2 separate regions of the Homo sapiens genome follow, and region 2 is linked to region 1. The links come from fine-mapping of genetic effects on gene expression. A gene starts in region 1. The other region holds a variant in brackets. All regions are shown on one strand. Distances are between the middles of the regions.

Region 1 (5,381 bases):
TAGCTAAGAGGTAAAAATGGAAGGAAAAATAGTAGGCAAAAGAGACTGAAATGATGCACAAACTGGAGCTGGATGCCGCCTTTCTCTCCTCTGCCCTTTACCTCTGTCAGGAAGGTATGTGATGCAAATTTGAAGATTGTGGTTACTTTAAAAAATATATTTTTGGGTAAGCATGGGCACAAATATATATACATATGTGTGTATATATGTATATATGTGTGTATATACATATATATATATACACACATATATATATTGGTCCAGTGCTGTGGCACAAGCCTGTAATCCCAGCTACTTGGGAGGCTGAGGCAGGAGGATCACTTGAGTCCAGGAGTTCAAGTTTGAGGCCAGCCTGGAAAACAGAGTGAGTCTCTCTCTCTATTTATGTGTATATATGTATATGTGCATATGATAATCTTGTAATATGCTTTTAGTGGTCATTTTCCTTTATGCTAAACCATAAGTTGTTTAGTGACTCAAAGGAATCCCTTAGTAACAAACTTATTGGGATGGTTTGTATCTCATGAGAACATAGACACTGCACTGTGTATGTCATTCAGTAAGTGGCTAAAGTGCTAGGGCACAGTTACTATTAAACTGCCCTAAGAGAAAACATTTTTAAAAATAGAAGCATAGGGGAAAAAAGCCCACAGGGCTCTAATATAACTTCCTCTGTATTTGTGCTTTTTAGGAAGTTGTTCTAAGCCTCCTTTGAACCCTTATTAACTCTTATTAAGAAATAACAGTTTTATGATGGGTTGGCCTTCTCATCTGCGAGCCCTAATTTTGCAGGTTCACAGAAAATGCTACATCACAAAATCCTTTTTTAAAAAACTCTTCCCAGGGTCAAACTCCACAGCCAATCAAAATATTCCACCTTTTAACTTGAGGGAAATCGCTAAAGGAAAGGATAGCTTTAACTAGTGTGTCTTTTGGATTGGGGGACTCAAAGAGAGGTCTCCCCAAGTTCCACAAGACTTCGGACCACAGAAAACCCACCACCCATGCGTGTTTTTGATTCCTTGAGGACACATGCTGAGGTGGTTGGGAACGAAGTTTCACATCTACCTAAAAGATCATGACCAGGGATAGAGAGACGACCAAATTTGGGAGAGCAGTTACGGTGCAGTTACGGAGGCGGAAGGACGCTCTCAGTACCCCGTTTCCACACTTTCATTCTTAAAGGCATGCAACCCCTTTCTAAATAAATGTAGCTCCCCAGGTTTCCACTACCTGAAGAGAAACCCTCACAGCACACTCTGGAAATGTTTTACAATTCGTTTTAAATGCGTATTATTTCTAACTAAATCATTGAGGGACTCCTATGTATTTATTTATTTATTTATTTTGAACATTTTCAAACGGATGGGGAAGTTTTGCTTCCATGTTTCCATTTTTTTCCCCCCAAATTGGCATTAGGCACCAAAATCAGTTGAGGAACGAAGCATTCCTTAGCTAGAATTTAAAACTTAACAAGGGACTCTTCCCGAGCTTGGTAAAGAGAATACCATTTTAAAATTGCACTGTAGGATTTTTTTACCTTCAGACAAGAACACACCTAAAAGGAAAAAGGCCCTCCCCTCCTCCCGAAGCACAAAAACACAGCATATCCCAAGCAGCCCGTTTCCTACCCAGCCAATACAATAACGCTTTGTAAACTGAGAGCAGCGCCCGGTATAGAAGCTAAGTATAAACAGCTGAGAAGGATTAGGCGGTAGCGCTCTTCTCATTTACATGAAAATCCTCTAAGCATCGTTTTCCTCGCTGGCTGCGGGCGCATAAGGAACTCTTTTATGCCATAGCCACGCATACATTTCCATCCTTTGTCTTTACTTACCAGTCGAGGCTGTGGGCATGTGTGCTCTATTTCCTCCATGGTTTCTGAGGGAGGCTCATTGGAAAGGGATTTTGGGATACCTGTTTCTGACTCAGCATCAGTGGTAACTACTGGCATGGCCAGTGAATGCTCCCTCTAGCTCTACACCCTCAGAGAGTCTCCTCCCAGGCAGAGAATGTTTTCTTTGTCACGTATTTTTCTCCCCTCTACCCTCCACCCATCCCCCCGCTTCTTCTCCCCTTCTTTCTGTCTTCCCTAGGGGAAGTAAAGAGGTTACCCCCCGCCCCTCTCTCTCTCTCTCTCTCCCAGAAGCCAAGAGGCAAGGCCTCAGTTTATCACTATAACAACCAGACGACACTGAAGCGGCTGGTGCGGGATACAGTATCTCATTTGCATAGAGCGCGCTGGTTGGCTACTGTCATCATAGTACCACTCCGCCGGGAAGCGGCCGGGCCCCATTGGCTAGCCCTCCGTACCCACGGGCCCGAACTTGCTGCTTTTGTTTCTTCTGTTTAATTCAGTTGCAAAGGTCTCCGTCCTCTCTGGGCACGGGACCCGGGCTGCGCCACCCAGATAACATAAAACCGCTTCCTGAGGGGCCTAGGACGCCTTGAGAAACAACATAGCAGACCTCCACTAATAAAGGACCATGTCCCTGGGATGAGCTAGTGCATGATGTGCTGTAGTCAGGATATTTGCCAAATAGGAGTCACCCTGAAGACAAAGCCACTTTTGAGCCCAAATTCATTGTGCTAATTGCCAGTGGAGGGCCCCTCCGGGCATTCACTATGGGCACCTGAGTGTTCGACCCCTGGACTTCATGCAACGTGAACCCTGGCAGATCCCCTCGTGGCCTGGTGTAGCCCTGGAGCCCTCCCCTGGGGCTGCCCTAGGGGGAACTTTGAAGGAGGTAGATTGTCTTTAACAGCCTGCCTCCTACTCCTGGCTGCCCTTTCGCAGTTGCTTCCTCTGTCAGCCACTCTTCCCCTTCCCCAGCTATTCAAAGTTTCCTCAAGAAGTCTTGCTGTTGTGTGCCTTTCAATACACTGTTCCATGCACTGCTCTATTTTCTCTTGGTTCCTACTTTACCAGTCGTGGGTCCCATTTCCGAAGTACCCTGCTCTCAGCCAAATGCTCATGGCAATCAGAGATGGAATGTTAACGATCAGGTGCTTTAATGTCTACATTATCTAGGGACATTCACATTTTAAGAGGAGCATTCTGAAGACACACATCCAAAGAACTTACCAAGGTATTCATTGTGAATTGTCACTTTTAATATTAATAAAAAATCATGATGATCCCTGGCATTTATTAAGCACAAGCACGGTGCTAAGTACTTTACCTAGTTCTTGTTTAATCTTTGTGAGAACCCAAAGAGGTAGATCCTATTGTTATCCTCATTTTACAGGTATTCACATTCACAAAATTCTAAAATAATGCAGCTGGGATTTGAAGGAATTTTTTTTTTTTTTTTTTTTTTTTTTGCGAAGGGCGAGGTGGTGGGGGCGGGCGCGTAGGGACCAGGGATGCAGCAGGTGTAGTAAGAAAAGGATCTAGGCAGGAGTCCTCTTAGGACAAGTCCCTGGGCTTCTACATCTTTCATTTTTATCTACAGTAGTGGTTTTCATTCAAGTGTGGTCTGGGACCAGCAGCACCAACATCAGCATCACCAGGGAACTTGTTAGAAATGCGAATTATTGGCCCCCTGCCAGACCCCGGACCTGATTCAGTAAGTCTGGGGTGGGGTCAGAATTTGCTTTTCTAGAGAGTTTCTGGGTGTTGTTAATGCTGCAGGTCTGGGAACTATACTTTGAGAATCAGTAGCCCAAAGGATGGGATAAAAATACCGGGCTTGCCTCCATCACAGAAAGGAGATCAAATGAGATATCATGTCATTGCACTTTTTGAATTAGAACGTGCTATGCTAATATAAGGGGACATTATTTTTATTACTCCTCAATAAGCAAAGAGGGCTAGTCCTAAAAGAAGAAGAAAATGGATTCTGTAGCAGAGAATTACAGTTTGACAGTTTTAGATGCTGGCCCTTTAAGTCAGAATAACATCACTTAAGAGTATTATGACCTATACAGGACAGAACTCCAGTGTTGTGAGAATTCCAGTGATGCTTCCTACCCTATTTGCCCTCCTGGAAGCACAAAACACTTCCAGCAGCAGGTTTAACTCTACCAGCTCATCACCTGGAAGAGCCAAGCCCTGTGTTACATTTAGGAGCCCTTTTCCTACGTGTACTGGGTGACGTGCAAATGACATGGTTATTCTAATCTCAATATATGTATTTTTGCCTTAGAGCAGTGGTTCTCAAAGTGTACTTCTCCAAGAAGTGCAGCAGCAGCCCTGGTCACTTGTCAGAAATTCTGGATCCCCACCCCAGACCTACTGAATCAGAAATTCTGGCTTCCCACTCCAGACCTACTGAATCAAAACCTCCTGGTTTGGGAGGCATTCTGACCCACGCTAAAGTTTACAAACCACTACCTTAGAGTCACTGTTCACATTGGAAAGCACCTAAACCCCACTGTATTCTTGGCCACTGAGCCACCCCTTGGTTCCTAATTGGTCACCTAATTCTCTCTCCAGAATGAGAGGTTCACCTGTTCACCTGCTCATTTTAAAGAGTTCTGATGTCTAGCTGAGTCCTTGTGAACTCTTGTCCAAGAGCCTAGGCCATTCCTTTAGACTCCCAATATCTTCTGTCTCCCTTCCTCACCTTCTTCTCCTCCTAATCCTCCCCTGTCCCATTGAACCAAGATACTGCCTTTGCCTAGGATATCTTCATTGTATTACCCACATCAAATCCTTAGCTTTCAGTGCTACTTTGTGCTAAGTCCGTCACACCTGACACTTACTCATCCCAAGTCCTTGAACTTTGAAATTTAGACTTCTGTCTAACTGCCCTGAGGGTCAGCTCTATAACTAATTCCATTCCCACTAATTCTGCTCCAGCCTAGTCCTGGCTTCTTCCTGCTCCTCTCCCCACAGTCCTGTGATTGAATCTCAGCATGTCTTGCAGTCTTAATGGCAGAAATAGGCTCTTTCAGGCACCACTCTGAGAGGAGTCCTTAACAGATCCACCCACTTTGGAGACCAGTCCTGGCAGCTGCTACAACCTGACTCAGAAACTTCTTGATAATACTTGAGTGAGTTATTTTAACTTGGGGGCATTGTAATGCTATCAAGACAATTAGCTAAGAATGATCAGTTAATTCCACACTACAGAGCTAAATATTCCATAAGGGTTATGAAGGGGATGACTATGAAGGGATAGCAGGAGAGAGTTTATTGGGGTAATGGAATTATTATGTAGCTTTTTTTTTTTTTTTTTTTTTCAGACAGGATCTTACTCTGTTGCCAGGCTGGAATGCAGTGGTGCAATCTCAGCTCACTGCAACCTCTGTCTCCCAGGCTCAAGCGATCCTCCCACCTGAGCCTCCCAAGTATCTGGGACCACAGGTGTATGCCACCACTCCTGTCTAATCTTTCTATATTTTTGGTAGAGACAGGGTTTCACTGTGTTGCCCAG
Region 2 (5,381 bases), 25 kb after region 1:
AAGTACCAAAATTAAACATGTGGAAAATAAATACTCAACTCTCTTATTTAAAGGTAGTTTCCATTTCCTGAGAGCTATAAAAGATTATTAAGTTCATGATTATTTTCACCTTTCAGATTCAATATTTAGCAGCAATGCTTGTAACTATTGGCTGTTAAGTAACTCCACCAGCAGTAACCAGAAATGGTCGTGTGTCAGCTTGGGTGGGGGTATCAATCTATGGTACACAAAGGGCTGGTAGTCAGAAAGTTTAATTTACAGAAGTTGAGCCTGCCTGTGTGAGAAAAGTACACTGAGAACCGAAAAGCATGAGAAAAATGTTAATAAAATCATTCTTTATTATTGTTACCATTAATAATGTAATCCATTTTAATTGCTCAAGGAGGTTAAATAAGCCTATTCAATTTAATAGAGAAATCAAGGCACAAATTAGCAGCATAGGCAAATGGTCAGGAGCTTGAGTCCTTTTGTTGAATACAATTACATAAAATAAGCCATGGAAAGTACTTAGCCCGGGACATGTCACCCTATAATGTCAACTATTATAATAATGATAAGTGATACATTTGGGAGACCATGAAATTAGAGGCCTTTGTCTATTTTCAATTTGCAAAAGGTATCAGAATACGGAGTGATATTTGCACAGATTTAATTCTACATGACTGGAACATAGAAGAATCATCTCAACTTTCCATATCTGCACCAGTCCAGAACTGAATCTAGTTGTTTTTTTTGGCAACAGAGTCTCACTCTGTTACCCAGTCTGGAGTGCAGTGGCATGATCTTGGCTCACTGTAACCTCCACCTCCTGGGTTCAAGCAATTCTCCTGCCTCAGCCTCCCAAGTAGCTGGGATTACAGGTGCCCACCACCATGCCTGGCTAATTTTTTTGTATTTTTAGTCGCGAGGGGGTTTCACCATGTTGGCCAGTCTGGTTTAGAACTCCTTACCTCAAGTGATTCGCCTGCCTAGGTCTCCCAAAGTGCTGAGATTACAGGTGTGAGCCACTGTGGCTGGCCTACATCTAGTTATTTTGATACTACTTCAAATCTAATTTTGAAATGAGGCATGAATGAATGAATGAATGAATGAATCAATCAATCAATCAATCAATGCCTCCTGATTCCCCCATTAACTCAATACAATTGGCTAGTAAAACTCATGAGTCTTCAATATACAGTACAAATTTCTCCAAATTTAAGATAACATGGAGGTGACTGGGGAAGGGACCAACTGGGCGAAATGATCAATCAGTCATGTAGCTCAAGTGTCTGCTGGATATGAACCTAGACTACTTTCTGAGTAATATGGTGCTTAAACCAGCCACCCATATCCATTCCAAGGGGCATGAGAAGGTTTTGAAGGGATGCTGGTACAGGAAAGACCAGGGCCTGTGTCCATTCTCAGGGTAGTGGAGTGAAACCAGCTTCACCGTTAAGCAGAGAAATTCCCTCTGCCTCGTTGTTGGGAAGCTGCCTCTGGCCCTCAATCTCTTCTTCACATCATCTGGGGTCCTTCTTAACACTTTGTCCCACTGCCTAAACTTTCTCCATCTAGAACTCATTCAGTTTAACAAGGTTCCCCTTGAAATACATTCTCCGGGCACCCTCTGCCCAAGAGAAAAGACCATATACAGTGGTCTCACTTAAGTGACAGTTGCATAACATTGAATTCAGAAATGGATTGTCTTCACTTGAGGTCAGGATTTCGAGACCAGCCTGGCCAACATGGTGAAACCTTGTCTCTATTAAAAGCACAGAAATTAGCTGGGCATGGTGGTGCACGCCTGTAGTCCCAGCTACTTGGGAGGCTGAGGCAGGAGAATCGCTTGAACCCGGGAGGCAGAGGTTGCAGTGAGCCGAGATCGTGCCATTGCACTCCAGCCTGGGCAGCAAGAGCGTAACTCCATCTCAGAATAAAAGGAATGGGTATTCTAATCAGGATTTTGTGACGTTTCTACTAGGAGAATTTCTCATTTCATAGGATAAAGAACATTTTGTTAAAACATTTCTGCAATACCCTCAGGCTCCCATAGCATATTGATCTGACCTTTTTTTTAGTAAGCAAATTTGTTCTTGTCATCTAAGTCTATCCAGGGAGCTGACATACTCTGCAAGGGGATAAAGAAATATTAGTCACAATTTGTTTTTCTTTGTCTTTTTTTAAATCAACTTAAGACGGAGAAGATAATGTTTCCATTTTTAGTGTGACTATTAATTAGCACAGATTCATTACACTTGCAGATACATAGGACTTTACTTTTTGAACTGACTTTGATATTCAATAAGGCAAAAATCAATAAGAAAGTATTCACATTACCTTGCGCCACAATTGGGGAGCGCGATTGTCCTCTTCCATGATGCACTCCTGATGGCCTACCATGCCTGCTCCTGATCTTTTTATCTTCTCTAGAGGCCTCTACCCTTTGGAGTTCTTTTGAGTCACAGGATGAAATTTTTGTTGCTCACTTGACCAAAGGTCAAGCAGGCTCTCTGTGCCCAGCGCTCAAAGATAAGCTCGGAGGAGCTCGGAGTGTCCCAGTTGTTGAATAAGGAGAGATTTGAGTTGCTAGGCACTCTTGCTTTACTTACCACAAGCCTCCTCTTGTCCCCTCTGGGCTGTTGTTCATTGACAATTGCTGTGCTCTGAACTAGCGCTATGATGGCCTGTTGTGCGGGGACAGGCGGGTTGTGGTGAAAGCTGCAGTCGTGAAAAAGGCTATTGTTTAATCTACCCCGTCCCTCGCTGAAGCTATGGCAACAAATTC[C/T]GTTGGTGAATTAACTATGTCATTGTGCACTGGCTCAACTGATTATGCTCCTGGAATGACAAACATTTTCTCTCTTTTTTTCAAGACAAACAGTGACCGAGACCTTGAAGTGTTAATATACAACTCAGCACTTTCTTTAAATAGGAGAATAAAGATGGAAAAAATAAATCTCTCAAACATACTTTAATTGATTCTAATAAACATTTTATCCCTTCCAAGGAGCTATTCTCAGCACCATTGATAATGAATTTGTGCATCTTAACTATGTGGAGTCTTCGGAATTTGTGTTAAGGTAATTTTCTCTCAGATAACTCTGTGTTAAAAGAACTCTTTAAATATGCATGTGCTTCAGGCTTTCTAAGAACAACATTCTTTTTAAATCTGGCTGCACCAAAGGGCTATGGAAACCTTGGCTGCAGACTGTTACCTCAGTTTAGAGGGAAGGCAGCTGGTCCACCTAAACTCACCTTTGCCAAGTAAAGATATCCTTTGTCCCATCCTAGCAGGAAAACTCTTAGAATGCTTTCTCCTCTATTTTAAGCTCCAGGACAGTAAAACGTGCTCTGATTGGTTGAAGGATGCTTTTCAGACTCCCTCACCCCTCCCCACCATTCATTCATCCTATACCTTCTGCATCTGGGTACCCTGCCAACTGCTGGGGGAGCTCTGCCGGTGGCCACACTGTTTCCTAGTGTGGTAGTGTGTAGTGTTCTGACTTGCTAAGTTGGAATCACATTTCCCAGGATTCCCTTCCCTGAAGGCTTTGGGTTAGAGTTGACCAAAAGAAGAATTTGCATAAGATATGGGAGGTGGAAGTGAAGTAGGAGCGGTTATTTTGCAACGGTTGTTGTGGTTAGGTATGGTAACAAACAGAGGTAGACGTGAAATCGGATCCCGCTTGTCCTCACTCTCCCTCACTCTGTGTCCAGATCTTCTTTGTGAGTGCTGATCCTGTTGACCAACAGGAGCCCCAGGGCCACCACTGGACACTTGGCTGCAGGCCCATAGAGGTAGGAACAGCTTCCCATAGGTCTCCCCAACCGGCTTCCCCTTCCACTTGCACAGTTGGATGTGCTGGGCTTCTCAGACTGATGGTGGGTGGCTCCTCCCATCTTCCAATTTCCTCCTGGACCTTCAATCCCCCATCCCTCTCACAATGGGGCCAGGACTAATTCCTATGATAAATCGCTTCCTCCACAGCTCATCGTGGTTCTGCTTCTGTGACTGAATTCAGATTAATAACACTTACTGTTTCCAAACAACACAAGCACTGTTAGGAGAGCATCCTCAGCATGGAGAGAGGTTAGAGGGCCGCAGGGAGAAAACTCCATGGAAGTTGGATCGAAAAGTATCTGAGGACCCCAAGGAAATAGATGTTATATTTGTATCAGATCTCTCCCTACAGTTGCTGATAGCCCTCACCCTGCAAAGCCTTTCTTCAGATCCAAACAGTTAGCTCTTCTTTCTTCTTCCCTCTTGTGGCTTCCCCTCATCCTCATTCTGTTTGTTTGTTTGTTTGGAGATGAAGTTTCACTCTGTCACCCAGGCTGGAGTGCAATGTCATGATCTGGCTCACTGCAACCTCCACCTCCCAAGTTCAAGTGATTTTCCTGCCTCAGCCTCCTGAGTAGCTGGGATTACAGGCGTGCACCACAATGCCCAGCTAATTTTTGTATTTTTAGTAGAGATGGAGCTTCACCATGTTGGCCAGGCTGGTCTAGAACTACTGACCTCAGGTTATCCACCTGCCTCACCTCCCAAAGTGCTGGGATTACAGGCGTGAGCCACCGAGCCTGGCTGTCCTCATCCTCATCCTCATTCTTTTTTTTTTTTTTTTTTTTTTTTTTTTTTGAGGCAGAGTTTCGATCTCGTTGCCCAGGCTGGAGTGCAATGGTGCGATCTCGGCTCACCACAACCTCTGCCTCCCAGGTTCAAGTGATTCTCCTGCCTCAGCCTCCCTAGTAGCTGAGATTACAGGCATGCGCCACCACACCTGGCTAATTTTGTGTTTTTAGTAGAGACAGGGTTTCACCATGTTGGTCAGGATGGTCTCAAACTCCCAAACTCAGATGATCCACCCTCCTTGGCCTCCCAAAGTGCTGGGATTACAGGCATGAGCCACCGCTCCCAGCCCTCATCCTTATTCTTATCTTGCATAGATGATTCCCCAAAAGAGACTGGGATTGGCCATCAAAGGTAAGCCACACTGTAGAGGTAGGTTCCAAGTAGTGAATTAAAACAGAAAAAAAAAAACAAAAAAACCATACCCAAGTCCTGGGCACATTATTTCCTCCAGATTTATTCACTGGATCCATTAAAATGATGTCCCAACTTGATGGAGCACGAACAGGTCAACTCAAATAGAAAGTTTCTCTGAAACTAACTGAAGCCTGGTTCAGCTGTCAGGAAAAATCACCCACCTCTATTTGCACTTGTTTGCTCTTGTCAGTAATGGAAAAATCACTCTTGTGTCATTAAGGCCCAATGGTTTACAAGAGAGGCATATTTTGAAATTGCTTCTTGCTGTCATACCTTAGAATAACAGTGCATTTGATTATATTTCCAAGCTTCTTGTTTCACATCCCAAAGAAGAATCACTACCAATCTACTCCCT

Evidence for each region. PIP is the estimated chance that this variant, and not a neighbour inherited with it, causes the effect.
Region 2: its variant is fine-mapped to the expression of PCYT1B in whole blood (TOPMed, PIP 0.99).

Annotation. Positions count from the first base shown.
Region 1 is chrX:24,645,152-24,650,532 of GRCh38, forward strand. PCYT1B (phosphate cytidylyltransferase 1B, choline) reads right to left here and starts at 2,196. Exons shown (of 8, transcript NM_004845.5): 1 at 1,838-2,196. The coding sequence starts at 1,954. It overlaps PCYT1B-AS1 (PCYT1B antisense RNA 1), which reads left to right and starts at 4,922. Exons shown (of 2, transcript NR_046638.1): 1 at 4,922-4,998. RefSeq lists an enhancer at 2,392-2,441.
Region 2 is chrX:24,670,251-24,675,631 of GRCh38, forward strand. It overlaps a transcript of PCYT1B not described here. Among named protein-coding and RNA genes, the nearest start is that of POLA1, 21 kb to the right of the region's middle. The variant C/T (reference allele first, on the strand shown) is at 2,768.